Linked DNA regions of Homo sapiens. The protein of the gene in region 4 interacts with the protein of the main gene of each other region in a pairwise test. Each region holds a gene or a part of one and is shown on either strand. Other genes may lie near its edges. The genes, in order: KRT24, TFIP11, CEP57 and AARD.

The links.
Region 1: the proteins of AARD (region 4) and KRT24 interact in binary tests that used the Homo sapiens proteins (3 or more experiments, as listed by UniProt).
Region 2: the proteins of AARD (region 4) and TFIP11 interact in binary tests that used the Homo sapiens proteins (3 or more experiments, as listed by UniProt).
Region 3: the proteins of AARD (region 4) and CEP57 interact in binary tests that used the Homo sapiens proteins (3 or more experiments, as listed by UniProt).

Annotation. Positions count from the first base shown.
Region 1 is NC_000017.11:40,700,732-40,708,765, forward strand, and holds the start of KRT24 (keratin, type I cytoskeletal 24), read right to left. Parts: upstream 3,022-8,034; 5' UTR 2,963-3,021; coding exon 2,348-2,962; intron 1,203-2,347; coding exon 1,120-1,202; intron 566-1,119; coding exon 409-565; intron 1-408.
Region 2 is NC_000022.11:26,502,474-26,509,473, reverse strand, and holds part of TFIP11 (tuftelin-interacting protein 11), read left to right. Parts: intron 1-2,545; coding exon 2,546-2,699; intron 2,700-3,014; coding exon 3,015-3,171; intron 3,172-5,680; coding exon 5,681-5,808; intron 5,809-7,000. UniProt on the Homo sapiens protein: Involved in pre-mRNA splicing, specifically in spliceosome disassembly during late-stage splicing events. Intron turnover seems to proceed through reactions in two lariat-intron associated complexes termed Intron Large (IL) and Intron Small (IS).
Region 3 is NC_000011.10:95,786,553-95,793,522, reverse strand, and holds the start of CEP57 (centrosomal protein of 57 kDa), read right to left. Parts: upstream 3,026-6,970; 5' UTR 2,825-3,025; coding exon 2,780-2,824; intron 1-2,779. Other genes in the region: protein FAM76B, read left to right, coding at 4,045-4,131, 4,960-5,024, 5,845-5,899. UniProt on the Homo sapiens protein: Centrosomal protein which may be required for microtubule attachment to centrosomes. May act by forming ring-like structures around microtubules. Mediates nuclear translocation and mitogenic activity of the internalized growth factor FGF2, but that of FGF1.
Region 4 is NC_000008.11:116,934,344-116,941,211, reverse strand, and holds the start of AARD (alanine- and arginine-rich domain-containing protein), read right to left. Parts: upstream 3,006-6,868; 5' UTR 2,969-3,005; coding exon 2,645-2,968; intron 1-2,644.

The DNA.
Region 1 (8,034 bases), on a different chromosome or scaffold from region 4:
TACAGGTGCAACAGGTGTGCGCCATCATGCCCTGTTTATTTTTGTATTTTTAGTAGAGAGGGGGTTTCACCATGTTGGTCAGGCTGGTCTCGAAATCCTGATCTCATGATCTGCCTGCCTTGGCCTCCCAGAGTGCTGAGATTACAGGCATAAGCCACCGTGCCAGGCCTATTTTACTTTTTTAGAGACACAGTATCTCTCTGTTGCTCAGGCTGGAATCCAGTGGCATGATCATAGCTCACTGTGGCCTCCAACTCCTGGGTTCAAGGGATCCCCCTGCCTCGGCCTCCAGAGTAGCTGAGACTAAAGGCATGAGCCACTGCACCCAGCCAATTTTATTTGTATAGAATGCATATGGGGAGAAATATGTTAGCTAGAGTTATTCGTTTATGTAGAACATGTTCCTACCTCCTCGTGGTTCTTCCTCAGGTAGGCTAGCTCCTCGGTGAAACTCTCAATCTGCATCTCCAGGTCAGAGCGGGTCATAGTCAGGTCATCCAGGACTTTCCGCAGGCCATTGATGTCAGCCTCCACGCTCTGCCGGAGACACAGCTCGTTCTCATACCTGGAAGGGGCAGCAGTAAGGCAAAAAATACTGTGAGCTCACCTGGCCGTGTTTCAAAGGGTACCTTCCATTCTTACATATTGAAAAAGTTCTCACTTGTGGGCATTTTAATAAATAAAGGTTATTAAGTTTTCTCTTGGGAAATTTTCCCTTGTAAAGAAAAATACCAATGTAATGTTAATTCTAATCATGTCTAACATTTTTAATAATAAAATTCTCATTCTAAATTTGCCTCTTTCTTTTTTCTTTTTCTTTTTTCTTTTGCAGCTGTTGTAGGCTGATGAAAGGAGCAGAAGCGGCCGGTGTGTAGCTACTGGCTTAGGTGCTCAGCAGAGAGGATCTACCTGCCCCAGCATCAGTGGAGATTTGTCTAATGGTCTAAAGTTTACCCTTGGGATGTTTGTAAATTTAGGTCATGATCCTCTAGTATATATATATATATATATATATATATATATATATATATATATATATATATATATATTTATTTATAAAATGGAATAAAATTTATTTTTCTCCCGTAACACTTGTTTTCAAGTCTTTATGTTTCTTACTTCAGTCTGAAGTCATCAGCAGCCAATCTGGCATTGTCAATGTGCAAAATGATCCCAGCATTTTCAACAGTGGCAGCAATGATCTAAAAAAGATGTTAATAGTGAGTGAATCACGAATGATTTTTACCTTGTGTCTGCATGCCTACTTGTAAGGGTAGCTGTTGCCTGTGTTATTAGCTCTTTTTTTTGTGTGTGTGTAGAGACAGAGTCTCGCTCTGTCGCCCAGGCTGGAGTGCAGTGGCAAGATCTCAGCTCACTGCAACCTCCGCCTCCCATGTTTAAGCGATTCTTGAGCCTCAGCCTCCTGAGTAGCTGGGATTACAGGGGCGTGCCACTATGCCCGGCTAATTTTTTTTGTGTGTGTGTTTTTAGTAGACACGGGGTTTCACCATGTTGGCCAGGCTAATCTCAAATTCCTGACCTCAAGTGATTTGCCCGCCTCAGCCTCCTAAAGTGCTGGGATTACAGGTGTGAGCCACCGTGCCCGGCCTGTGCTATTAGCTTTTAAAGGTGACTTGCTTTGCAAACTTACTTAGTAATGACTAAGTATACAGCCCCAGACCTGTATATCTGGGGCTGGTATATTTAGGACTACATCTTTCTGCAAAAAGATAACAGTCTGCACATTTATTGGACTAGGCACAGGAACCTGTTTTACAGGACATAGTCCTCTGCATATTTCTGCTACTTTGTTAGATCATTATCTCATGAGCTTTTTCAGAAAATAGTGCAAAAATTGTATTTCACTTCCAAAAAAGTCTTTAAAAATATATTTCCCATACAAAAGTGGCTAAACATTTTAGATTCTACTACATTCTTATGTAATGTTTGCACCAGATTTTCTGGGAAGAAAAATAATACTAAAGAATATTTAAATCTTGTAAGACAATAAAATGTGTCAGTCTGTCAGAATTCATCATAAATAATTAGATTAAACTAATGTTGACTCACTGCCACCATTCTTATATATAAATGATAATTAGCTGCCTGGTGTTGTATAAGTTTTACTGTTATGTAGAAATACTGAAACTGAGATGGAAACAGAAAATTAATGTGATTGGACATCACATAAGGTACTATAATAATTAAGACACATCAGGTCCCACTTTGCATATGTAACAAGCAAATATGTTTTCAAATAATTTCTTAAAATTTTCATTATAGTACATGATCTGAAAAGAAGTGAAAGATCCACAAATAATAGAAACTCAGGCACAGATAGTCTCACCTGGTTTCTGAGATCTTCAATTATTGAATAGTATTTGCTATAATCTCTTCCCGATCCACCGTCTCCAGACCCAGGCCCATATTTGTCATACCACTCCTTGATTTTGTTCTCCAGATCAGTGTTAGCCTCCTCCAGGGCTCTGACCTTGTCTAGGTAATTGGCCAAGCGGTCATTGAGGTTCTGCATGGTTTGCTTTTCCCCTCCAGAGAAAAGCCCCCCATCGCCAACACCACCTCCCATACCACCACCATAGCTGTAGAAGCCTCCAGTAGCACCACTGCTGAATCTAGAACTCCCACAGAATCCAGAACCCCTGCCAAATCCAGAGACCCCGCCAAAGCTAGAACCCCCACCAAATCCTGTCCCAGAGCCTGAAGCTCCCCCAAAACCACCCCCTACTGAGCAGCTACCAAAGCCCCCTCCAAAGCTGCCCCCAAAAGCACCGCTAGACCCCCCACTCAGGCTGCAGCTGCTGGCTCCTCCTCGGAAGCCCTGGGCCGAGCTGCCCCCCAGACCACATCTGCTTCCACTGCTGAAGCTGCTTCCACCAGCAGACACCCTGGCTGAGCTGCTGCCTCCAGCCCTGGAGGAGGAGGCGCGAGACGAGCAAGACATGGTGCTCCTGCAAACATGAGCTTGTCCAGGCGAATAGGAGAGGTGATGACGAAGAGTGTATTCAAGGCTGCCTTTTTGGCCTTTATATACACACTTCGAGGGTGTTCCTTTTCTCTGTCACTTCTTAATCCCTGTTACAGTTTTGGTAATCCGTAATTGGATAATTTCTGTTTCTTGAACACTTCTCTGAAGCTAGGTCAGAGCCCTGGGACATTTACTATATCAATAAAAAAAGAATAAAGTGGAGCAAAACAAAAAAATTTTCAGAATTACAGTTTTAATCTTTCAGAGGTTTTGATGATTGGTAACTTTTCTCTGGAAGTGTAGTTCTATTAAATTTGCTTCATGATTTCACATTTGCAGAGAATATCTCCAGGTTAACAAATGTAATTAAAATACTTAATATGATGAGAATAAAAATTTCCCATCAATCATGTAACTTTTTTGTTCATATTGTTCTCAAAAGTTGAAATTAGCTTTCACATCAGCAATAATTTCAGATTTGATTAAGCATCCATCTCTTTGATTATTTCAATCAGCGTGTTTTTTAAGGTTGTTGAAGTTTGTGATTTTAAGTTATTGCTTTCTTTTTTTGTATTTTGTATAATATACAAAAAAGCATATAATTTGTAACAATTATGTTTTATAGTTCATAAGAAAAACATAAATAATAGTTTTCTAGGTAAGTATTATTACATCTCAGCAACATGTTTATTCAAGTAGCTAATGTCTAAGAAAGATTGAAAAGCTTTTAGGCAGATTGTTTTAATACGATTTTCTTTCTGGTTGAATTCTAGTCTGATATAAAGACAGCAACTTCCTTTTTGAGTCAAATTTCAAGAAATGAAGAGATGATGCAGATATCTCCTGCCTTCGTTTTAAAGATAAAAGAGGATTTGTATCTACTTCTGATAACTAGTGTTACAATTGGAGTTATTTTATAGATTCTGAACCCTCCTGAGCTCCCTTTGTGCTTCATGGCTTTTTGTCCCTTTGTATTTTAGACTGTTTCCATTCATGTCTTCTAGTCACTTCACCGGTTTAATAGTGTCTTTTTGAAAGACAGATACTGTATAATTCCAGTACTATGAGGTGCCTAGAGTAGTCAAATTCACAGAGACAGAAAGTAGAATGGTAGTTGCCAGTGGCCGAAGGGTTGGGGATAGACAGTTGTTGCTTACTGGGCATAGAATTTTAATTTTGCAATATGAAAAGAGTTTGGGGCCAGGCGTGGTGGCTCACACCTGTAATCCCAGCTCTTTGGGAGGCCGAGGCAGGTGGATCACCTGAGGTCAGGAGTTCGAGACCAGCCTGGCCAAGATGGTGAAATCCCGTCTCTACTAAAAATACAAAAAATTAGCCAGGCATGGTGGCAGGCGCCTGAAATCCTAGCTACTTGGGAGGCTGAGGCAGAGAATTGCTTGAACCCGGGAGGCAGAGGTTGCAGTGAGCCAAGATTGTGCCACTGGACTCCAGCCTCAGAGACAGAGTGAGACTCGTCTAAAAAAAAAAAAAAGAAAAGAGTTTGGGAGATTGGTTGCACAACAATGTCAGTACACTTAAGACTACTGAACTGTAAACTTATAAATGATGAAGATGATAAGTTTATGTTATATGTATTTTACCACAATTTTTAAAAAGTCTTAAAAAACAGGTGCTTCCAGAAATAGTTTGTATCCTCCTTAGCTTTAAACTTAAGTAGCTGACTTTTGTTTATTTAAGAATTTCTTCCTTCTTTTGCCAGTCTCTGTTAAACTATGTTCACACCTTAATCTTTATATTCAATTATTTGTTAAACAATGTTCTGCTTTAAATTTTTCCTTAAATTGCATTTTATTGGGACACATGATTAAATAGGTAATCATTCACTTTACTATGTAGCTCTTATGTGGCTTTTATGATCTACCTGTACTGTTTTCACAGGAGTATGATGTTACTCTTCTTCATATTTAGGGTGACATATCTCCAAGGGGTACATGGTGTACAAAATTTTAAATTGTTAAGCTGGGAGTAATTTTTATAACGCCCTTCTAAAGTAGCTAAAAAATGCACCACACATAATGTGTTGGTCATCCTGCCTCGCCCATCCCTAAAGCTGTGAAACCAAAGAAAACTAAACCCTAATGATTAAATGGTATGCAAATGCTGGCAATGGGAGGAACAGTCACAGAGTGTTTCTCCCTTTTAAAACTATGAAATGTAATCTTTCAATTTTCATAAAGACTTGCATTTGGCTGAAAGCACGTTTAAATCCCAGCTCCTTCGGAGGCTGAAGCAGGAGAATTGCTTGAACCCGGTGGGTGGAGCTTACAGTGAGCAGAGATTGTGCCACTGCACTCCAGCCTGGGCGACAGTGCGAGACTCCATCTCAAAAAAAAAAAAAAAAAAAAGACAGAGAGAGAGAGACAGACTGAATCTTAGGTGTCTGGGCTCCCAGTTCAAATTTTGAATAGTTTGTGATTAGAAGTTTATTTCTACCTGTAAAGAAACATATAAAAGCTATATTTCCTTATAGAATATGATTTTAATAATAAGTGCAGAATGATTTGCAGATAGTAACCATCAATTTTTTTTTGTGTGTGTGGGGGATAGATTATTAGTATTTAAATATTTTTCAGATTAACATATTGCAGGTTTTTAGACTAGTAGGAAAACCAAATACTGAAATGCATGGCATATGGCTCCTGATGAATCTTTACAGAATTGAGAACAGAACTTGGGTATTCTATCTTCTGTTCATTCAAGAAAATATACTGTTTTGTGTTTTTCAAATAGAAGCATCACATCAGAGTAGTTAAGGGAAGTTGCTGGGTTTAGAGTATTTGTTGAATGTTGACAAAACTTTCTGTGGCAGACAGTAAAAAAGAAGGGAAAATATACATTTAAAAAAATTTTAACTTTTAACTTTTGTGGGTGCATAGTAGGTATATAGATTTATGGGGTACATAAGATATTTTGATATAGGTGTACATATCCCATCAGGGTAAATGGGGTACCCATCACCTCCAGCACTTATCCTTTGTGTTACAAACATTCCAATTATACTATTTTTTAGTTATTATAAATTATACAAGTAAATTATTATTGACTATAGTCACTCTGTTATACTATGAAACACTAGGTCTTATTCATTTTTCTAACTATTTTTGGTACCCATCAAGCGTCCTCACTTTTCCCCTACTCCCCCGTTTCCCTTCCCAGCCTCTGATAACCATCATTCTACTCTCTATCTTCATGAGTTCAATTGTTTGAATTTTTAGCTCCCACAAGTAAGTGAGAATACACAAAGTTTGTCTTTTTGTGCTTGGCGTATTTCACTTAACATAATGACCTCCAGTTTCATCCACGTTGTTGCAAATGACAAGATCTCATTCTTTTCATGACTGAATAGTACTCCGTTGTGTATATGTGCCACTTTTTTTTTTTTTTAAGACAGGTTTCACTCTCGTCACCCAGACTTGAGTGCAATGGCGCGATCTCGGCTCACTGCAACCTCCACCTCCTGTGTTCAAGCGATTCTCCTGCCTCAGCCTCCCGAGTAGCTGGGATTACAGGCACCCACCACCATGACCAGCTAATTTTCATATTTTCAGTAGAGACAGGGTTTCACCATGTTGGCCAGGCTGATCTTGAACTCCTGACCTCGTGATCCGCCCTCCTTGGCTTCCCAAAGTGCTGGGATTACAGGCATGAGCCACCGCGCCTGACCTGTGCCACTTTTTCTTTATCCATTCTACTGTTGATGGATGCTTAGGTTGCTTCTAAATCTTGTCAGTAGTGCTGTAATAAACATGGGAGCACAGACATCTCTTTAATATAGCAATTTTCTTTCTTTTGGACACATTGGAAAGTATAAATTTGATGTGTGAACAGTCTCTTTGCAATGCCGTTGCAATGACAGATAGTAGATAGACAATAAATATTCCTTGAATTAATAAAAACTAACATGGCCTGATTTTCTTCATGAACAACTTGGATCACTGATTACTTTTGTTCTTTACTATGTGTTGTGTTTTGTTTTCTGAATCTTTATGCTCCACTTCTGGGTTAGTGATTCTCAGTGTGTGGTGGCGGAGAGCGGGGCTTGGCAGTAAGAGGAAATGTTGTTTGGGAAGAGGGCAGAAAGGTCAGGCAAGAGTCAACCGGGGACCTTCCTGTAGGGAATCATTGTTTGGGCCAGCTTCCTGCTGGTGGCTGCTCTAGGCCCCGCCAGGGTCAACTACTTGGAAGAGAAAAAAGGTTTTGCAATAATAACATGACTAAGAGCCCACTCCAGTAGATCTGGCACCACCCGTCGATGGATTGGGTGTGTCATTGTCACACCCCAGAAATCCACCAATTCTGTGGCTGTTTCTCTTCCTTCATCACTTTCTCTCCTTCCCCACCACCCTCGTCCATTCTTTCTCTTCCTGGTTTCACTTAAGTGTGTCTATTTGAAGGCTTCCTCTTCTCCACCAGGAAGCATCTGCTTGGTCATGCCATTTTGCCAAATTTTGTTCTGGGAAGAAAAATCACCTGGCTTTGTTCTTGTATGTGAGTGCTTTCAAATCTCTTTAAATAACTCAATTCTCTATGTTTCCTGAAGATCTTTCCGTGAGTTTATGGAGAATTAAGAGAATGGGTGAGTGACTTTGCGGGGGTTGGGATGCTTTGTCCTCCAGGCTCCACAGATAAGACAGTTTGAAATAAGCACAGTTTTCAAGGATTAGCTCTGCTTAAAAAGTCCTTTTGTGCCTTTCTTCATACCAGACAGACAGTAGTCTTCTCTTCAGAGAATCCAAAAGCATGAACAATCCAGATCATAACTTGAGCAGTAGGGCCTAGCCCCTGTGCCTCTTGCCAATGCTAAGTTGATACACTGGGCCTTCCTGCTCTGTCTCTTCCAGCTTGACCCCTCAACCTCCTGCTGCCCTCTGATGTCAGAGAAGCTGCAAATCTTTGGTCAAGGAATCCAGGGCTTAAATAGTAGTTTCATAGCAAAAGAATGGCATGGTATTTTACACAAGATCATATTTTATATGATAGGCTCAGAAGAAAGCTTCATCAGTCTCAAGTCTCTTGTCCTCTGTCCA
Region 2 (7,000 bases), on a different chromosome or scaffold from region 4:
GAAATAGGCATTAACAACTCAGACGATCAAACTTGTGACTGTGATGCAGGACATGAGGGACATGAGGACATGAGGGAGAACACATTTTAGGGCATTTCATCTATTCTGAGAGGTCAAGGAAGATTTCTGTGGAGAAAAGTGACCCTTAAGCTGATATGACTGACAGTAGAAGGTAACTAGGGTGGTAGAAGAGGTCCCAATATGCAAAGGCCCTTGATGGGAAGCATCACGGTATCCACAAGGATATGAAAGGCTTGGGGGCTGGAGCAGAGAGGGGGAAGGGTAGCATAGTGTGTGTGATAGAGAGGGTGTGATGTGGGGCTGGGTTATGTTTTGAGAAGACCCTTTTGCTGGTGTGCTCAATAGGCATGGAGCCACAGTGGAAGACTGTGAGGAGGCCAAGCCAGTGGTCCCTGCACAGGTAGTGGAGGACTGGTCTAGGATAGTGGTGGGCAATGAGGATTCAGGCTGCACGTCTTCTCCCCAGCACAAGGTTATGTGTGCCCTGGCTGAACCTCACTCAACCAGGGTGTGCCAGGTTGGGGGTTTTTTCCTCCATGGCCTCACCTGTGGCCTCTAGGCTCTATCCTATTGAGAGTGTGCCTTTTTCTTTTTCTTTTTTTTTTTTTTGAGATGAAGTCTTGCTCTGTCGCCAGGCTGGAGTACAGTGGTGCAATCTTGGCTCACTGCAACCTCTGCCTCCTGGATTCAAGTGATTCTCCTGCCTCAGCCTCCCGAGTAGCTGGGACTACAGGCATGTGCCATCACACCCAGCTAATTTTTGTATTTTTAGTAGAGACGGGGTTTCACCATGTTGGCCAGGATCTCTTGACCTTGTCATCCGCCTGCCTCGGCCTCCGAAAGTGCTGGGATTACAGGCGTGAGCCACCACACCCAGCTGAGAATGTGCCTTTTTCAAAGGAGGCTGGGGGAGAAAGAGTATAGAGATTAGTCCAAACTTCTCATCCACAAGGAAGTCTGAAAGTGGATGACAAATAGATCAGGGAACAAGAATTGCATAATCATAAGATAATAATAATAGCTAACATCTCTTGGCTGCTTACTTGTCCTGGCTATTTCATAAACCTGGATTAATTTTCCTTATGAGAAAGGTACCATTATTGTCCCCATTTTACAGATTAAGAGACTGAGGCTAATGGTCATACAACTAGGCAGAGGCTAAGCTAGAATTGGAACCTGGACCTATCTGACTCTAGAGTTTGGGATCTAAATCACTAAGTTATATTACAATTTTAGGAAAAAACTCCCTAAATTCTGTTGTTGCCCTGAGGGTGTTGAATTACTAGGTTGGTCATTTTACAAGGCATCCCTTTATTTGCTGTATTCCCAGGTTTTCTTTTTTTCTTTGAAACACAGTCTCTATTACCCAAGCTGGAGTGTGCAGTGGCGTGACCTTAGCTCACTGCACCCTCTGTCTCCTGGGTTCAAGCGTTTCTCATGCGTCAGCCTCCTGAGTGGCGTGGGATTACAGGCGTGTGCCACCACACTCAGCTAGTTTTTTGTATTTTTATTAGAGATAGGATTTTGCTATGTTGGCCCAGCTGGTCTTGAACTCCTGGCCTCAAGCCTCCCAAAGTGCTGAGATTATGGGCATGAGCCGCTGTACCTGGCTCCAGGGTTTTTTATTGTAATTTTTTCTTTTTTAAACCACACAGTACAAATATATCAATTTTATTTTATACAAAAAAGACCTGAGGTTAATGGCTTAATGTAAGTACTTGAAGCAGTCAGAGTTTAAATCAATATATTTCATTTTATAGAGTTAATTTCTTATTTCTTAGGGGACTTTAGTGTAATTTTCTTTTCTTTTTTTTTTTTTTTTGGAGATAAGGTCTCACTCTTTTGCCCAGGCTGGGGTGCAGTGACATGATTATAGTTCACCGCAGCTTCAACTTCCTGGGCTCAAGCAATCCTCCCATCTCAGCTTCCCATGTAGTTAGGACCACAGGCTTGCACAACCATGCCTGGCTAATTTTTATTTATTTTTTTTTTATAGAGACGAAGTCTCACCATGTTGCCCTGGCTGGAAATTTTCACATTCAAATAAATTTAATGGCTAGGAGCTTTTTCTAAGTTTGATTAATATAATTGTTACATGCTTTACATTCATATAATCTTTCAATGGGTTTTATTTATGATTTTCCATCAAAATTTCTGCTCCTGTTGGATTTTTGTACTTGAAATAGTTTTCAAAACAATTGCTTTTTATGATAAATTAATTTTTTAAAATGTAGGAAAATTGTATTATCACATCATATTTTGAATTTGTAATCAACCCTACATTGATGTGATAACTCTTCAGCCGTAGAGGGATATGTCAGGTAAAATGTTAAATGTGACTACAGGAAGCCAAATCTGGGGTCCTTTGGATTTTTTGACACATTAAAAAATGTGTTACTTTTTTAAAAAACCTCCCATGAGATTCACTCTAAGGAGTCTTCAAGCACGTAGTTTCTGCAAAAGGATCGCTGCAGAGAAAAGAGTTCTTTACCGACCTGGTGGGGCTTTGTTTCTGTGCCTACAGGGCCCGTGACTACTCTGCGCCAGTCAACTTCATCAGCGCAGGGCTCAAGAAAGGGGCAGCGGAGGAGGCAGAGTTGGAAGATTCTGATGACGAAGAGAAACCTGTTAAGCAGGACGACTTTCCTAAGGATTTTGGACCAAGGAAGCTAAAAACGGTAGTCTCTATTGCAGGATTGTGACCCTAGGAATATCCTTCAAAGGTCATTGTGGCCCAAGCATTTTCTAGCCAGGGAGAAACTCATCTGGAATGAATTTCGTGAGTGTCTCCTTTTGGTGGCAGGTTTCTGTGAGTTGTGAAGTGTGTAGTGCAGTCTCTTCCTTCCTGACACGTTATCACACACATTTTTGGTTCATATGACACTTTTCATAGTGCTGTATAACTTAGGCCATTTTCCTGTTGGCCAAGCTTTCTTAGATTTTTCTTCATTTTGTTTTTCCATTAACTAAGCTTTGATTTTTCTTTTTTGCAGGGTGGCAATTTTAAGCCCAGCCAGAAAGGTTTTGCAGGAGGAACCAAATCTTTCATGGACTTCGGCAGCTGGGAAAGACACACAAAAGGAATTGGACAGAAGCTTCTTCAGAAGATGGGCTACGTCCCTGGACGGGGCCTCGGGAAGAATGCACAAGGTATTGCACCTTTGTCGTCTTGCATGATGGAGGAGGGCAGGCATAGGGAAGGAGAGGGGCGTTGGGAGAGGAGGTTTGCTTTTCCCTTTTAAAAGCACTTTATCTCTCCAGCCTGGTTTGCCAGCACAAGACATTTGCGTTCCTAAGCTACCTTGCTTTATCAAAGCTCAAGTTAAATAAGTAATTGTTTCAACAGCAAGGAAAGGGTTAGGGTCTAAAACAGGCTGCAAACAGGTTGAAAACAGGCTTTTTTTCTGGTCCTGACCAGTGCTTCTAAAAACAAAAATGAGGCTGGGTGTGGTGGCTCATACCTGTAATCCCAGCACTTTGGGAGGCCAAGGCGGGTGGTGGATCGCTTGAGGTCAGGAGTTCAAGACCAGCCTGATGAACATGGTGAAACCCCGTCTCTACTAAAAATACAAAAATCAGTTGGGTGTGGAGGCATGTGCCTGTAATCCCAGCTACTCAGGAGGCTGAGGCAGGAGAATCGCTTGAACCCAGGAAGTGGGGGTTGCAGTGAGCCGAGATCACTCCAGCCTGGGCAACAGAGCGAGACTCCATCCCTGAATAAATAAATAAATAAATAAATAAATAAATAAATAAATAGAATAAATAAAAACAAAAATGAATTAGTTGCTAATATTTAAAAAACAGACAATTTCACCTAAAATTCTAGATTTTGCCTGGCAGTAGTTAGTTGAGGCAAGTGAGAACTGCTCCTGGGACGATGGACATGGCCTTCTCTTGGAGGCAGTCTCCATTACCCCCTGTTGTCTTCCACCCCAACCCACAGGAACTTTTCTTGGTCCCAGAGTCATTTGAGTTTGCCATCCCTACTCACAAGGGTTTTAATTTTGTGGAAATAACCCTATTTGTCCTTCAGGAATATCAGTAAAACATCGTGCATAGTTTTTGTAATAGCTAGAGCCATATGGCTATAAAACTGGCTGAGCAAATCCTGCATTGGTTACTTCCATCTTCCTCTAGTAGCCCAGTCTCCTCCTGTCTTCTCATGGCCAGCCCCATTGAGACACAGCCCCTGTCACACTCTTACCTTCTTGAGACCAAAGCCTCTCAAACCAAACAGTTGGATTCTTCCTACAGGAACATTTCCCCCTCTTCTTGAGCTATTTCCTATGCATGATTGCCAAGTAGATATAATCAAATGTATCCTACATATTCAAATTCCAGTCTCTAAATAATAATAATAACATTATTATTTTTTGAGACAGAATTTCACTCTTGTCACCCAGACTGGAGTGCAGTGGCACGATCTCAACTCATCTGCAACTTCCACCTCCTGGGTTCAAGTGATTCTCCTGCCTCAGCCTCCCGAGTAGCAGGGATTACAGGCACCCGCCACCACGCCCAGCTAATTTTTGTATTTTTGGTAGAGACAGGGTTTTACTGTGTTGGCCAGGCTGGTCTCGAACTCCTGACCTCAAGTGATCCATCCTCCTCGGCCTCCCAAAGTGCTGGGATTATAGGTGTGAGCCACTGCGCCTGGCCTCTAAATAATTATTAAAGTGAAATCCAGGTTATGTGTTGAAAACATTAGGTACATGAAAAATACATGAACTTGAGTAAAGATACACTGAATGAGAATGAGGGGACAGTTTTTTTGCTTTTTTTTGATACAAAGTCTCACTCTGTTACCTAGGGTAGAGTGCAATGGCATGGCATGATCATAGCTCACTGCAGCCTCAACCTCCTGGGCTCAACCCTGCCAAGTAGCTGGGACCACAGGCACACTCTGCTGTGCCTGGCTAATTTTTTCTTTTTTTGTAGATGGGGTCTTACTATGTTGCCCAGGCTGGTTCAAGACCTTGGCCTCCCAAAGTGCTAGGATTACAAGCATAGCCACCACATCTGGCCCAGGGATAGCTCTTATTTAAGACTTCAGTGGAACTAAATGGAAGGGGGGCAGGGATGGAAAATTTGGAGTCAGGGGAACGTCTTCATTGAAATGTTGTGGTCCTATTCGTAAACTCTTTTATGAGAAAAACAACGTTTATTTCCAGGGCTTAAACTTGTTATAAAAAAGTTAAACACAGGAGATAGGAACTCCTAAGTAAAATATGTGAGGAGTCTTATATTAAATTGCAGCTTCACTTCAGTCAGAATCAGTATAGTATTGGAATTATTGCATTTTCCCTAATAGAGGCTCCCAAAGAAGTGAAGCATAGAATTTAGTGTGCTGGAGTTCTCAGTTATAAATGTAGTGTTCTGTTTTCTTCCTGTCCACTAAACAATCCAAGTGGAAATGGAAATCTATTTGGGATATAAATAAACTAGTCAGCAGACTGTTCTGTGGTAGCATAAATGCTCATAAGTTTCAAATCACAAGGGACAAGAGTAGTGTTCTGAGGGCAGAGAATAGCTCTCCTTCCTGAGTAGCATGTTATTTTGTGGAAGGAGCAAGAAACTGTCATTTCACTGAGTGGCTGATTCACATACATGAATTGCTGTGATCGTAAGACTCTCTTTTTTTTTTGCTGAAATTCCTCAGGTATCATTAACCCAATTGAAGCCAAGCAGAGAAAGGGAAAAGGTGCTGTGGGGGCTTATGGATCCGAGCGCACCACTCAGTCCATGCAAGACTTCCCTGTGGTTGACTCAGAGGAAGAAGCTGAAGAGGTAACTGGAAGTCAGGAGACATGGGTGGATGGTGTCCTGTCCATTTCTAATGGCTGTTCATTTATCCCTTCATTCTGTTAGTCCTCAGATGTTTATTGTACATGTACCGTATGCCAGGTACTGGGCTGAAGGCTAGGTGCACCATGATGAGAGGGCTAGGGTGGACAGAGAGTAAACAAGCAGCTGTGGTGTGGAAGTGGCAGTTGAAATGGCAGAAGGTGCCAGGAGCTGCCTAGACAGAAAATAAGGCTGGGGGTTGGGAGGTGGTGTTGACCTACTTTTATAAATAGGCTGGTCAGGGAAACCTTTTGGGAAAGGAAACATTTCAGTTGAGACTTGGCAGAAGGGTGAGCTGACAAGCCAGAGGACACTGAGAGGCTCTGAGCTTGGTGGTTAAGAAACCATAAAGGAAGCCCTTGCGGTGGGAGGGCGGTACACAAAGCAGAGGGGAAGGAAGTGCATTCAGAGGGGTGGGTGGTCCACAAGACAGCCATGACAGCCATTTTTAGGTGCTCAGGTTTCATCCCAAGTGCAGCAGGGAGCCATCTGCTGGCAGCTGTGTGTCCCTTTTCCCCAGTGATAGAAAGGGCCAGCTCTCTTGATTGAAGTATTACTCTTTTCCTGTTTGAATTTATGGGGGAAAGCAGGATGCTGCAAAGAGACATGTTACTCTTCATGTCACTGACCTTTTCATGAAAGAGTTATTTGATAAATGTGGGATTGACCACTGTGAGTCAGGTGTTCTCAGAAGCCTACAGGTGCCAGGCACACCACAGAAGCAAGTAAGATGAGCCAGGTGCTAGACAATAAAGAGTGGTGGGGACTGTGGCACAGAGGTGAGGCTGTAGTCTGTCTAGAAGGTAAATCTTTATTCAGCTCTAGGTGATTGTTGCTTATGAGGATGTGGGCTCAGTATTGCCTGATCCTCTGATTTTCCCAAAGTAGCCAGATGTCTAGATACTTTTAGAGAAAAAATGACAAGTCTTAACCAGTATGAGAAAAACATAGTGACAACCCCAAAACCAACTTCTGTGGGCTGGACTTTACTACCGTCACACTAAGAAAGTTTACAAATTTGTGTTCGTAAACAGGCCGTATTCAGAGCCGTCCTGGGCTGCGGGTTGGACAAGCTTGCCTTAGCTCCTCCTCTAGAAAGGTTTTGCAGACCCTGATTGTAAGAGACACCTTTGCT
Region 3 (6,970 bases), on a different chromosome or scaffold from region 4:
TCTCAAAAAGTAAATCTTATATTTAATATTATAAAATGTATGATAGCCATAAAACATTTTTAAGGGAAATTAATATGGAGCTACTGTGCAGCTTGGTCGAAGGACCAAAAGTCAGAGGGACAAATCAAGAGATTAGGTCATTAATCACCAAGGTTATTGTGAAAATATTACAAGGCTGACATGAAAGACATTCTTGTGTATTTCAACACAATGCTGCCCATACCTCCATATGGAATTAATTTCATTATGCCCAATCATAGTTGCTTTCCTGCCTTTTCCACCAGTCGAAGTTTATCAATTCCAGAGCAATCACTCAATAAACGTTACCTAGAACCTAACTGAAACCTATCGCCCTACTTCCATGCTGTTCACATTTGAGATTTACATGGTCACTGCTTCCCAAAGACGGTTATTTATGAATCTACTTGTTAAAAATCTTTGCCTGTAAAGCATCTCAATGTACTTATAACTAGCTCCGTATGAGTTTATCAATGTCGAAAACAGTTGAATATAACAGTTGTTAATCTTCATAACCGTGAAATCTGAATACGAGTTGTGTTCTCAGTTCATGGTATAGTTTTAACAAGTTTTTTTTTTTTTAAATGTTGCCTACTGTTAAGATCAGCTGTTTGATAAGCTAAGTGCTTTTCCAACGCTGTTGGAAATGGCAGCCTTATTTCTGATGGGACATCTAAGCAGGACGTTTTCTTACGCACCAAGAAACCAACTAAATTTAGTCATTTTTGTTTTGAGAAACAGTAACTTCCAAAATAGACATTTTGATGTAGCAGATTGAGTTATGGTTGTTATACTTTGATTTGTGGAGGTTCCTAGATATTCTTAGTGTACCCTTGATATTTAGAATCCTATTAAAGCTGAGCTTAGCACAAAAAAAATATGCTTTCCTAATGAACAGTCTTTGGTATTTCTGTCAAGGGTACCGTATAAGTATTAACAGCTGACTATATCCCAGTGCCAATGCTCACCTAGGTGTCCTTGGCATAGTGCAGCTCAATTAAACGTTTATTTAATATTTTATTTTATGGAGACAGGGTCGCTCTGTCGCCCAGGCTGGAGAGCAGTGGCACTATCATACCTCACTTCAGCCTCAGTGATCCTCCCGCCTCAGCCTCACTAGTAGCTGGTATTACAGGCATGAGCCACGCACCCAGACTCAATTCAACATTTGTAAGAGTATTCCTTGTTCGGTCTCCAAGTGCTTAACTTTTGAGAGCCGTGAAAAGCCCTCTTCTCCCAAGTTTAATCACATCTCCTATAAAATCTCATCCATCTGCTGACACTTCCAATAGTTTTTTACTTTTTTCTTTTACTGACCTAATCCTGAATAACCTTAAATTGCTGCTTTCCTTACTTCTCCTTAACTTCCCCAGACCTCTCTGCAAACTTCTAATTCCCATTCGGCTGAAACACTGTAATACTTCTAGTCCCATTATTACAAATTCTAACAAGTCTCCAAAAGCTGAAACTGACTTCTCCAAGGTGACCAGGCTTTCTTAGCGTTTCCAACTCTTTCCCCCTAGATCCTAGAAAATAACTTTACCCTGATACTCTTCTAGTTCCTTCCCTCACCATCCTTCTTTTTTCACGTTTTTACCTACGTTTCCAATTCACCTCATCCAGCTCTACCTCCGTATTACTTCTTCTCATTCCGAACTATCTCAAGTTTCCTAAAAGCACCTACTGTTCTAGCACATACTCCAAAATTCCCGCACTGCCTTTTTCTCCTTTCTCTACTCTTGGGACAAGCAATCACAATTCCTTCGACACGCAACTAGCTCCATCTTCCCTTCTAGGAAACCTTCTCTAGCCTACCCAAGCACTGTTAATCACTCCCCTCTAGATTATTCTACTACGGTAGCACTTCCTAAACTATACTGCGCAGTAATCACTAATTACGTGTAGTTTCTCTTCAGTGTTTTTCTCCTTCAAAGCAGGGTTTCTATTCTGTTCATTTGGACCCTAACAGTATACCAGGCATCGAACATTTGCTAACTGGAGAAATAAGAGCTCCAACATTTACTTCCTATCAAAGCTTTCCAATGCCGCGGTTTTCAAAAACCTAAGCATTCGACACTCCAATTTGAGAAATACCAGTGAATACCAGTAACTAAACTGGATGGTGACATTTGATGAGGCGAAAACAATATTTAAAATCAATTCCCCCTGTCGCCTCTCCAAAAGGGCATTTCCACATTGAAGTTCCAGTAATTCTAGGTGACAGGAAGCGCGCGTTCTGGCTACGAGCATCACACAACGAAGTTAATGTGGATGGGAGTGGGAGGCACTGCAGGGATAGGAAACAGCATAAGCAACGACTAGTAAGCGCTCGAGAGACGGCGGACTACTATTCTGCAACGTCTCTTAAACACACTGGCGCGCCTCACCTGATCTGGCGAGTTTCCTAGAGGGGCCGCTGAACCCACGTGACCAAAAGAGCTACATTTTTGCAGGCCAGGGAGTGGGCAGTTATCCCAGCCGGCCCTTGGGAATGTTAGGCAACCGGGGTTGGTTGCTACGCCAAAAGGTGAATAAGGGCTGGGGAACAGGGGCGGCCAGCCCAGTTTCACTGGGAGCCAGAGGGTGCAGCTTCGACACAGCCACAGTGAATGGAAGCTTGGGGAGCGCGGGGCAATCTAGGCATTCCCGCCGACCTCCAGAATTGCGTCAGAAGCTGGACTGACAGCGCCCTGAAACGTGAGGAAACTCAAAGAGGCGCTTAGGGCCGACGTGGGGCCCACTCGCGCCAACTGCTTCTTACCGACAAGTGAGAACCAGAAGCCGCAGAGACAGACGCCGCCGCCATCTTTCAGCCTGCCCAGGGGGTCTCCGCACTTCGGGGGCGGTCTAGGTTCTCGTGCTCTTCTCCAAGACTCGGGAGCCGCCCACCAGCGGGGACCCTAGGCTGAACCCCTGATGGAAAAGGGCAAGGGTGCTGGTGCTGGGCTTGGAAACCCCTGCAACACACCCCCTCAGGGCCGCCTACGCTCACAGCTTACACAGAAAGGGCAACACGTCCTAACGGACGTCTTTCCTAGCCAATCAAAACAGCAGACGTCTTTCTGTAGTAGGAGAGAATCCGCCTCTTCCCTGGTGACGTCACAAGGTAGCGCGTAACGGGGCCCGCTGGGGCAGACAACGCCGGGGTTACAGGCCGGCTCTGCGGGGATTCTACGGAGGGTCGGGCCTCCTCCAGTAAGAAGCGTGGGCGAGTAGTGGTGTCGCCAGTGGCAACTGAAGGGAGTAATGGAGATAAAACAAAAGCGAAGGCGAAGTTAAAGCACTCCACGAGTTCCCTCGGATTAAACGCCGGAGAGAGCGTGAATTTGCCTCGGGGACGCCTCTCCAGGTGAAGTATTTACCTTTTGGCCAATAACAAATAGGATTAGGAGGGACTTAACGATTTAGTCCAATAGAAAGCAAGGGAAAAAAAGTTGCGGCAGAGAACGAGCCTTTCGCGAACATTTGCTCAATTGGATTGGGGCGCTCTCAGCCAAACCTGGGACTGGCTGTTAGAAATAGCCGCGACCGCAGACCTTTGGGCGGGGCAGGTTCAAAGCGGATTTCGCGCGCTGAGAGCTCCGGGATGTCATTGGCCGGCGACATCCTCCCTTTGTGGGCGCTTCCTGCGTCGCGGAAGTTGGGAGTTGGGAGGAGCCATCGAATGACGCGATAGCCTTCGCAGCCAATCAGGGATGGGAAAGGGAGGCCGAGAAGGAAGCGGATCCACGGCCGCACAGCTAAACAGCAACCCCCTACCCGCTTCGTCTCCCTCCGCCGCTATCGGGGCCTAAGCGGGAGCGGCTGGCACGGCGTCACTGGGTGGGCTGGGGCGGAAGTGGAGGCGGAGGGAGACGGTGGCGTCGTCCGCGGGGCCCTGGGCTCTCGCGGCGAGGCCCTGGTGGGCGCGAGGCAGGGGGAGGGGGAGGAGGAGGAGCCCGCGGCCCGGGCGGCGGCGGCTCTCGGGTTCTCCGTAGGGCCCCGCCTCGGAGCGGGCGGCGGCGGAGGAGGAGACTGAGGAGCAGGATGGCGGCCTCGGCCCTGTACGCCTGCACCAAGTGTACCCAGCGTTATCCTTTCGAGGAGCTCTCCCAGGGCCAGCAGCTCTGCAAGGTCCGTGGGCTCCGGGAGGCGGGCGGGATGGGTGTCCTCGGCCGTAGCCGGAGGGGGCCGGGTAGCCGCTGCACTGCAGCCCCTCTTCGCCGGCGCCTCAGGGGTTTGGGAGTCTGGAGCCCTCGCCTCCCCACTCGGGGACCCCTTTTTCTGGGGGCTTGAACATTAGCTGGGAACGGACCCTGAAAGGGAGGCAGAATCGTGCCCTTTTCCAGGCGGCCCAGGAGGGTGCCGGGCCCCGTCAGCGTCTGGGGGTCTCAGGAGTGGGGTTGAGTGAGGCAGCCACCTGTCTATGCCGCAGAGACCCAGGGGTGGAGATGTTTTCATCTCGGTTTTCTGCCTGGTCTGTCCTCTTCTTCCACCAGGAGGCAGGGGACGGTTTTTGCACTTTCTTGCTAGGAACCCGAAGCCGCAAAGCTGATGGCATCCTTCTTCCCTGTCCAGGAAAGCGAAGCGACTGGTTTGGGAACAGAATGCTCTGATTTGGAGCTCCTCCCATCCCATTAAAGCCTGGATGCTGTCTGTGAGCAACGGTGCAAAATAATAAGTAGTTTCACATTTAACCAATCCTTGAAATAGGCCCTGACAGCTTTCTTAATTTGTCTGTAATATACCCCCACGTCTACTAAAGACAAAGACACCTGTGCCTTCCCTAAGGAATTATATTGTGATTGGCCACTTATATGATAAAGCATCCAGTTCTTTACGTTGGGGCCAGGTTTTATAAATGTTTTAGACTTTCACTAGGTTGGGTAAACAGTTTTCTACCAGAAAAGTGAGATTTGGGACTTTCAGAAAGATACTGACTAATGTATTGTCTTATTACAGGAATGTCGGATTGCACATCCTATTGTAAAATGTACTTACTGCAGATCAGAATTTCAACAAGAGAGGTTTGTATACTGAATAGTTTTTGACTGTTAAAGACAAGTGTTGTCTTTATGGAATACTTGGGGGTTGTAATCCCATGTTTTTATGAAAGTATTTTTAAAAAATGGTTTAGCCCCAGAAATTTTAAGTTGTAAACCTTTTATACATGGTGGGAGAGAGAATGTTGCGAAAAAAACCAGTGGTGGTTAATTTACAGTTAGACTTTATATGAGAGAAGGAATAATACTACATGGAAAATGTACAGCCTTGCTAATGAAAATGCAAATGTAAACAGTTATGTTAAACTAAAAAAAAATGGTAAAGCCTTAATGGATCTGAGGAAAGGTCTGTAGTGTTACCAACTGCCTTCCAAGGTGAAAATCTAATAATTTGTTACATAGAAGAGGAGTAGTACGTAACATTTTTAACAGTTCCACTCTGAGAGTATATACAGAAAGTAGCCTCAGAAAAGAACAAATAATTTCTTCATAAATAGGTGTGGGCATTATAATGTTGGACAGTAGCCAAGTGGAAGGTTAGGTAGGCACTGGTATTGTAATGCTGTGCAGTAATAGTGTCAAGTGTGAAGATTTTGGAGCTATATAGGAAACATTAAGATGTTTTGTTTACAAAAAGTAATATGCAATAAAAATGTATAAAAACATTTGTCATAAGTTAATTTGGGTAAAACAACTCTGAAAATATCCTTGTATATTTGAAAAAAATCCGTGGTCCTTATTAAAGTTTTAAGTACAACAAATCTTTGACTCATTTTATTTTGACATTGTGCTAATTACTTTAGAAAGCTACATAAACATGATCTATATACAATTTATTTTTCAGCAAAACTAACACAATTTGTAAGAAGTGTGCTCAAAATGTGAAGCAATTTGGGACGGTAAGTATGTCTTATGTTTTCATGTCATTGTTACCAGTTAATATTTTTCATAAAGCTGGACCTTTTAAAAAAATATGTACTGCTGGCTGGGCACAGTGGCTCACGCCTGTAATCCCAGCACTTTGGGAGGCCGAGGAGGGCGGATCACAAGGTCAGGAGATGGAGACCATCCTGGCTAACACGGTGAAACCCCATGTCTACTAAAAATACAACAAAAAAAAAATGAGCCGGGTATGGTGGTGGGCGCCTGTAGTCCCAGCTACTCCAGAGGCTGAGGCAGGAGAATGGCGTGAACTCAGGAGGCGGAGTTTGCAGTGAGCTGAGATCCTGCCACTGCACTCCAGCCTGGGGGACAGAGCGAGACTGCGTCTCGAAAAAAAAAAACTACTGCTATGCTCTTAGATATTTCAACATACCATATTTTATGAAAGACATTTTCTATAGATACTTTGATGGAAAGGTGATAACATTTAAAAACAGTCAAATTATATACCTGTTTTACATGTATTGAATCCAGTGTGAAATTTGTGAAGCTGTTCTTTAGAGATTCAAATATAGCAAATTCTTGGTTATGGAGAACTTATCCATAAAGTTTGCATCATCAGACTTTAGCCCACTTCAGAACAGCCTCCTCAGAACTATTTTTATAAAACAGCGCAATTAAAGATATTTATTCACAGAAGTCATGACCCAATCCTAGTACAAATTGTCTTATATGTATACTACAATCATTATAGGTATATTATACCAATATTATTTATTATTGGTCAAAAATGCTAACTTTAACGCTCTAAACTGCCCTGAATCATCTTTTGAATATCAAAGAAAATCAAGGTATGTTTTTATAGTTTATGTTGAATATGCTTGTTCTCATTTTTTCAAAGTTGAAAACTCACAGTATATATTCCTTATATGATTTGTACCTATATGTGATGAAAAGTTAACATTTTCTAAATAAATGATATGGTCATTAAGGTAACTAGGATATTAGTAGAAGGACGTTTCCTCAAATTCTTGATTCATGAGACTTCTCTACATATGTACCTTTATTTTCGTTCTTTAAAACCTTTT
Region 4 (6,868 bases):
ACTCTGTACAAGTGCCTCATAACACGCTGACCAGACGAGACTGATGATTTTGAGGGTAGAGGCTGTATATTATTCATAATTGTATCCCCAACTAAGAGTGCACTGCCTGGGCACACAACCTAGTAGGTTCTCTGTGTGTTTGTTATAAGAGTGAGTGAATTAATTAATTAATTAATTAACTGATGAATATCCGTCCTGTACTTTCATGCAAGAATCAAGGAGAAAAATTATTGGTAATGATTTACCATCTAAGTAAAATAAGTATGTATAATTCACACTTACTTAGGAAATTCAAACATCAATGGTTCTTTAACTTTTCTTTCATCAAGGATCCCTCTGAGAATCTGATGAAAGTTATGAACCCTCTCTGAGGAAAAACTATATGCACATCAAAAATTCTGCATACAATTTTAGGTATATAGAACCCCTGAGATGCACTCACAGACCCTAGAAGTGAATGATTCTTACTAAGAAAACCCAGTCAAACAATAGAAAATAGTATAAATTGCAACACAACTCTAAATTAATTAAATTTGTTCATCGTTCCTTACGAATATCATCCTAATATATGATACATGTACACTTGTATAGGAATATATGTCAGTTCCTGTAAAAATCCAGTTAATAGCCGAAAATTGAAAACTAAGTCTTCTAGTGGTAATGATATTAAGGTACAGTATCCACACTCCTTTGCCTCTTCTTTATGACCAGGATAAAATGATTGACCAAGATGTTGACCATCGTCTGTAACCCAAGGACACATTATTTGTGTATGTGTAAACTTCTCTGGTTCCTTTCCAGAAAAACTCCTGATTTTTTTATAGGAATGTATCAGTTCTTTTTTGGTACAGTCAGAGTCCAAGGTCTATAGTAATCATTATAATAATAAGAGCCACTAAACAATACCCATGGTCTAAGCATTTCATGGAATATTATCTCACATAAGCTCTGGAATCCTATGAGATTATAAATTCCATTTTACAGATGGGTAAACAAACTCAAACTGGCTAAGTAACGATCCCAAAGTTGTAAGGCCAACAAGTGTTAGCAGAACCTGTAAATGGTAATGTTGGTATTTGAGCCCTCATCTGTTTAGATTTTATTGCCACCAGCGGTCTACAGCCATACCACCCTGAACGCACCCGATCTCGTGAGATTTTATTGCCACCCCCAACATATTGCTTGTCTAAAGCTCCTAACAAGCAACTTATTAAAATGTTATGATTGAAAGCTGTCTCTGAGCTTATTCAGTGTAATCTCCTCATCTGATTTAAATATGAGTCCCCTGAGGCTCAGGAAGGAGTACCGGCAGATCCCAAGACTACAATGCAGAGATGGCTGCGCCAGGTTTCAGCCTTCCAGTTTAGCATCCTGGCCCATAGCACAGGCCTCCAGTGGCCGAATGAGGTGGCTCCGGCTACCCTGCAGCTCAGACTCACTGCTTAGACTCAGGGTGAAAACCAGGTGTTTCTTTGACATTGTTGGATAAGATAGTAAATCTGGTAGTAAATCTAATGTAACCCATGTTAACAATCTGAATCTGACACGGAATTTAGGATATTGTCCTTTTTTTGTTTTTGAGACGTTGTTTCACTCATGTCTCCCAGGCTGGAGTGCAATGGCGCAATCTCAGCCCACTGCAGCCTCTGCCTCCCAGGTTCAAGCGATTCTCCTGCATCAGCCTCTGGAGTAGTTGGGATTACAGGTGCCAGCCACCATACCTGGCTAATTTTTGTATTTTTAGTAGAGACAGGACTTCACCATTTTGGCCAGGCTGGTCTCGAACTCCTGGCCTCAGGTGATCCACTTGCCTCGGCCTCCCAAAGAGCTAGGATTACAGGCATGAGCCACAGCTCCGGCCTAATACTGTTCTTCTTAAACTTAGAAATGCGATAACATTCTTAAATAAGACAATTTACTAATGGTTGGCTCAGTTCTAAAGTAGTGGTTAATTGTATTAGTAATCAGTGCAAAAGAGAAGAATTTTCCAAGTCAAGTCTCCACTGCACACTTTCCTAGGCAGCACCATTTTAAAGTCTGATTGCTCCTATTCATTGTGTCCTTTTCAAGTTGTGACTAATTTCCAGTTTTTTGAATTAAAAAAAATCAGTCAGCTAAAATATTTACCTATACACCCTCCTGTTTAATATTCGGATGTAACCTGTGTAATGTTCGAAATGGTGCAATTTTACAAAATACCTTATCACTTCCAGTTTTCTAAATTATTACCCACGGGAAAGATAAGAATAAAACTTGCGGGGCATAAAGAAAGAGTTACTGATGGACACACTCCATCAATCGCAAGAGAGAGTTTATTTCATGGAAATTTCCTCCTCCGCGAGCCATACATACACATAGTCACAGTTCCCTACAGGGCAGAAAACTATAGAAACGGGTTGGGGAGGAGACATCTTGGGTATGTCACTGGTAGACCAGGCACCCCCGCCCCCACCCCCCACCATGGGTCCTGCAGGGCCCTTTTCCTTCCCAACGATGCTGGGGAGGCGGGGGCGTCAACGCCGTGTCCAGACCTGAGGGGCCCCCCAAGGCGTCGGGTGGGCTACGCGGCCAGCGGCTCTGCAGCTGGAGGAGAGGACCCGGGAGAGGGAGCCCTGGGAGCCGTCCGCCTAGCCCGCTCTCTCACCAGCTCCGCCCGCAGCCTGGCCAGGGTGGCCTCAACGCCCGTCCAGCTCTGCTCCTCCCGCGCCGCCGCCGCCGCCGCCGCCTCCTGCACGCGCCTCGAGATCGCGCGCTGCACCGCCCACTGGAAGGCGCGCGTCAGCCGTCGTCTGAGGTCCTCCAGCAGCGGGCTGGCGGCGAGGGCCTCCTCCTGGATGTCCGTGCTCCTGCCGTCCCCGAAGAAGTCGCACGCGGGACGAGGTGGGAACCAAAGCTCCGCTCTACCTGGGAGTCCCTGGAGCCCCTGGGAAATTCTCTCTCTGCAGCGGCGGAAGTCCCCGGGGCCCATCGCGGAGACGCCTGGTCACTGCTCTACCGCTGCTGCTGAAAGATGAGTTTCTAAGTTTGATGTTTAGGGCGGGGTCAGGGCGGGGGCGGAGGTAATTCAAGGACCCTTGCCAAGTGGGATGCTGCAACTGCCCCGCCATTCAGAGACGCTCCTTTGCTCCCAGTCCCATCTTAGTCCTCCATTAGCGACAGAGGAAGGAGGCGGTTCCCATAACTCCAGGAGAAGTTTAAGCTGAGTCGCTTTTTTCTGCTGCTTGCATTGAAAGGAAGTCTTTCTAAGGAGAAGGCTTGGTAACTGAGCAGTCAGCCTATGTAAGTGGAAGTTGAGGTACAGGTGGAAGGTTTATGACCAAAGGTTAGAATATTTCAACCCAAAGCCTTCCTGGTTGCCTTGATCGTCTAATACGTCATTCCTTAAAAACAATTTTTTTTCTTCCTACTCTGCCAGGCACTTTGCCAAGTTTGGGGAATGCAAAGGCTTAATTAGACCCCTCACCTTTCCCCAGGTATTGCCCGCAGTCAAGGGGGAGAGCCTTGGCCCTGCTTGCTAGTTAGAATGTACCTTCTACAGGTTCAGTAAGGCATACCTGGAAGTCTGAGTCTCCATGCTCCTTTCTATTTTGACTCCTGTCTGCCATGTCCACGTTTATGAAGGGGTTAAAATGAAAAATCAAAATTCCCCTTAGCCCAAAGTGTGTGTGTTTAATTCCCAACTAATAAGGTTTGGCTCTGTGTCATCACCAAATTCCAGTGGAATTGTAATCCCCAGTGTTGGAGATGAAGCCTGGTGGGAGGTGATTGGATCATGGAGGTAGAGTTCTCATGAATGGGTTTAGCCCCATTCCCGCCTGGTACTTTATAGTGAATGAGTTCTTACCAGATCTGGTTGTTTAAAGTGTATGGCACCTCCTCTCTCTCTCTCACTCCTGCTCTGCCATGTAAGACACTTGCTCTCGCTTTGCCTTCCACTATGAGTAAAAGCTCCCTGAGGCCTCCCCAGAAGCAGATGCTGCCATGCTTTCTGTATAGCATACAGAACCATGAGCCAATTAAACCTCTTTTCTTTCCAAATTACCCAGTCTCCGGTATTTCTTTATAGCAGTGAGAGGACAGACTAATACACCAACTCCAGGTAATCATGTGCCAATATTACCTGTATATCCTTTATCAAAGAACATATTCTGCCTCTTTTTGATCTAATAGGGAATTTCTAAAAAGGAGTGAACAATCAAAACTTTTGTATGATCAAAGAATGCAATTACAAAAAAAAACAAAACATAGTTTAGACACAACTCTCATCTTATTCATCATTCATTCATTCATTCATTCAAAAGTTACAAGTCACTTGCAATGTTCCAGGGTCCATGGTAGGCATTGAAGGCAATAACAACTGATTTTTATTCATGCTTAGTATGTGCCAGGCAATTTTTATGTATTAATCTTCACAGCAACCTTGTGAGGTAAGTACTATTAGTTTCTGCATTTTACAATTGAGGAAACTAAGGCAAGAGATTAAGACGTACACCAAAGATCTCAAAGCTGGTAAGGGATCCACTGGAAATTTGCACCTAGGAAGTCTGGCTTGTGCTCCAAACCACTGGGATACACCCTGGATACGCTTTATCTCCCAAAGAGGAAGAGAGTTGCTCAGTTTATATGTTGCATGAGTGAGTGAGTAAGAGTGAATAAGTGTTTAAATTCACTATGTTCATAAAATTCGGCTCTATTGAAATGGCTTAAGGCTCAACTGGATAAGGAACAATACAGGTTACTCAGCCTGTGCAGATAATCTACTAAATTGAACAGCTTGCAATAGTTTACAACCCAAGCACAGTAAAATTCCTACCATTGTATATTGCTTCATAAAGATTCCCTAGAAACATCTGAAGATGTGTTGTCTTGGTAGAAATTATAAAAATCCATGTGGTCTGCCATGCAGCAATGGAGTGTGAATTTAGGGTTTTTTGTTTGTTGGTTGGTGATAGGTTGATGGGGCTTGAAAACCACCACTAGTCAATGTACAATATAAACGTTTAAAATGAATTTTTTGCTATGATTTTTCACTTCCATTTCCAGATCATTTACTTCAACAAGAATTTCAGTTAAGTTCAATTTAACTCAACAGTGAATGGCGCATGTTCAGTGTTAAGAATTGTGCCATATGAGGGAGATACAAAGATGAATAAGGCATAGTTTTTGTCCCCCAGAAGCTTAAAACCTGAGGAAGCAAATTTATTGATTCATTCATTTAACAATATTTATTTAATGTCTTATTATGTACCAAGCATTACACAAGGTGCTCAAGCTACAATGGCAAACCAAGGAGACAAAATGTTTTTTTAAAATAAACTGGTTTACCACAAATTAATAATTTTCCTCTATAGGTTAATTTTTCAGTTGTGGTACACCTTGAATTTTACAATTTTTTTTCTTTCTCTTACACAGGCAAAGCAAATTGAAGAATTGGAGCACTGAATATAACATCCACAGACATTTGAATTAGAAAATGTATTAATTATTTATTGCTGCATAACAAATTACTCCAAAATTCAATGGTTTAAAAAAATAAACATTTATTTTCTCTGACAGCTTCTGTGGGAAAGAATTTGGGAACAGCTTAGGTTATGGTCCTTAGCTTTTATGCTGTTGTAACCAAATGTCAGGCAAGGTCTCCATCCTCTGAAGCTGGATGTGATTGGCGCTGGAGGATCTGCTGGCAAGGTGAATCACTTAGATGAATCACTCAAATGCCAGGCAATTGGAGCCAGCACTTGGTGGGAGGCCTCAGTTCCTCTCCATGTGGACTCTTTCCTACTATTGTGTAAGCGTCTTCATGATATAGTGGGTAGACTTCCCTCAAAACAAGAAGAGAGAAATACAGAGAGCCAGAGAGAAGCTCTTTACATGTGCTCTGAACTACATTTTTATGACCTGGCTTTGGAAGTCAGTTATTACCATTCTGCTGATCAGTATCAAGTCTCTAAGTTGGAGCTATATTCAAGGGGAGGAACCTCAGCTCCACCTTTTGAAGTAGGGAGTATCAAAAATTTCCAAATATATTTTTAAACTACCATGGGAGAAACATATGTACATTACACGTAAGTAAACAATGATACAAATGACTTCTGACTTCCTGCAGAAAAAAAAAGGAGTCCAGAAAACATTGAGATATTTTTAAACGCAGAGAGAACTAAATTAACACAGAATTCTAAGTTCAGCAAAAATATCCTCCCAAAAACCAATCTCAAAAAGCATGTTTTTAAAAAAGGAAAATTAGGAAAATTTGTCACAAGCAGGCTTACACTATAAGAAGTACTAAAGGAAATTCCTCAGCTGAAGTAAAATAATAGTACAGGGAAACACAGATCTTCAGGAAGAAATGAGTAACATAAGAAATGGTAAGTATCTAGGTATACGTAAGTGACTTTGATTCCTCTTAATTAATAAACATATGGTTTTATATATATGTTTTTAAAAAACAAATATATATATTGTTATATACATTTTTTAACTTAATGGTTAGGAAATACCTATATCTTGTTCACAACAACACAAAACCCATTTAGCACATACTAGGTGATCAATTGCCTAGTTAATTAAACTGAACAAAATATTTGATTCCCTCTATTTCCCTGATCTTCATCTCTGGCATTTGTTTCACTGCAGTAATCCAGTCACATGAGCCACACCTGAAAGTATGCTATCACCCAGAATGATATCTTTAAAAGCCTGAATTCTGAAAATCTATTCTCAGTCCACATCCTTTTTTCTATCCACAATTCACTCTGACCCCTCAATTCAAGAGAAATGACTTTCTGAAGTACTCTTCTGTTTCTCTTTTCCCACCCAGAATCTTGTGGTAAATTATTTCAGCTAACTCATATCAGCACCTTCTAGTGCT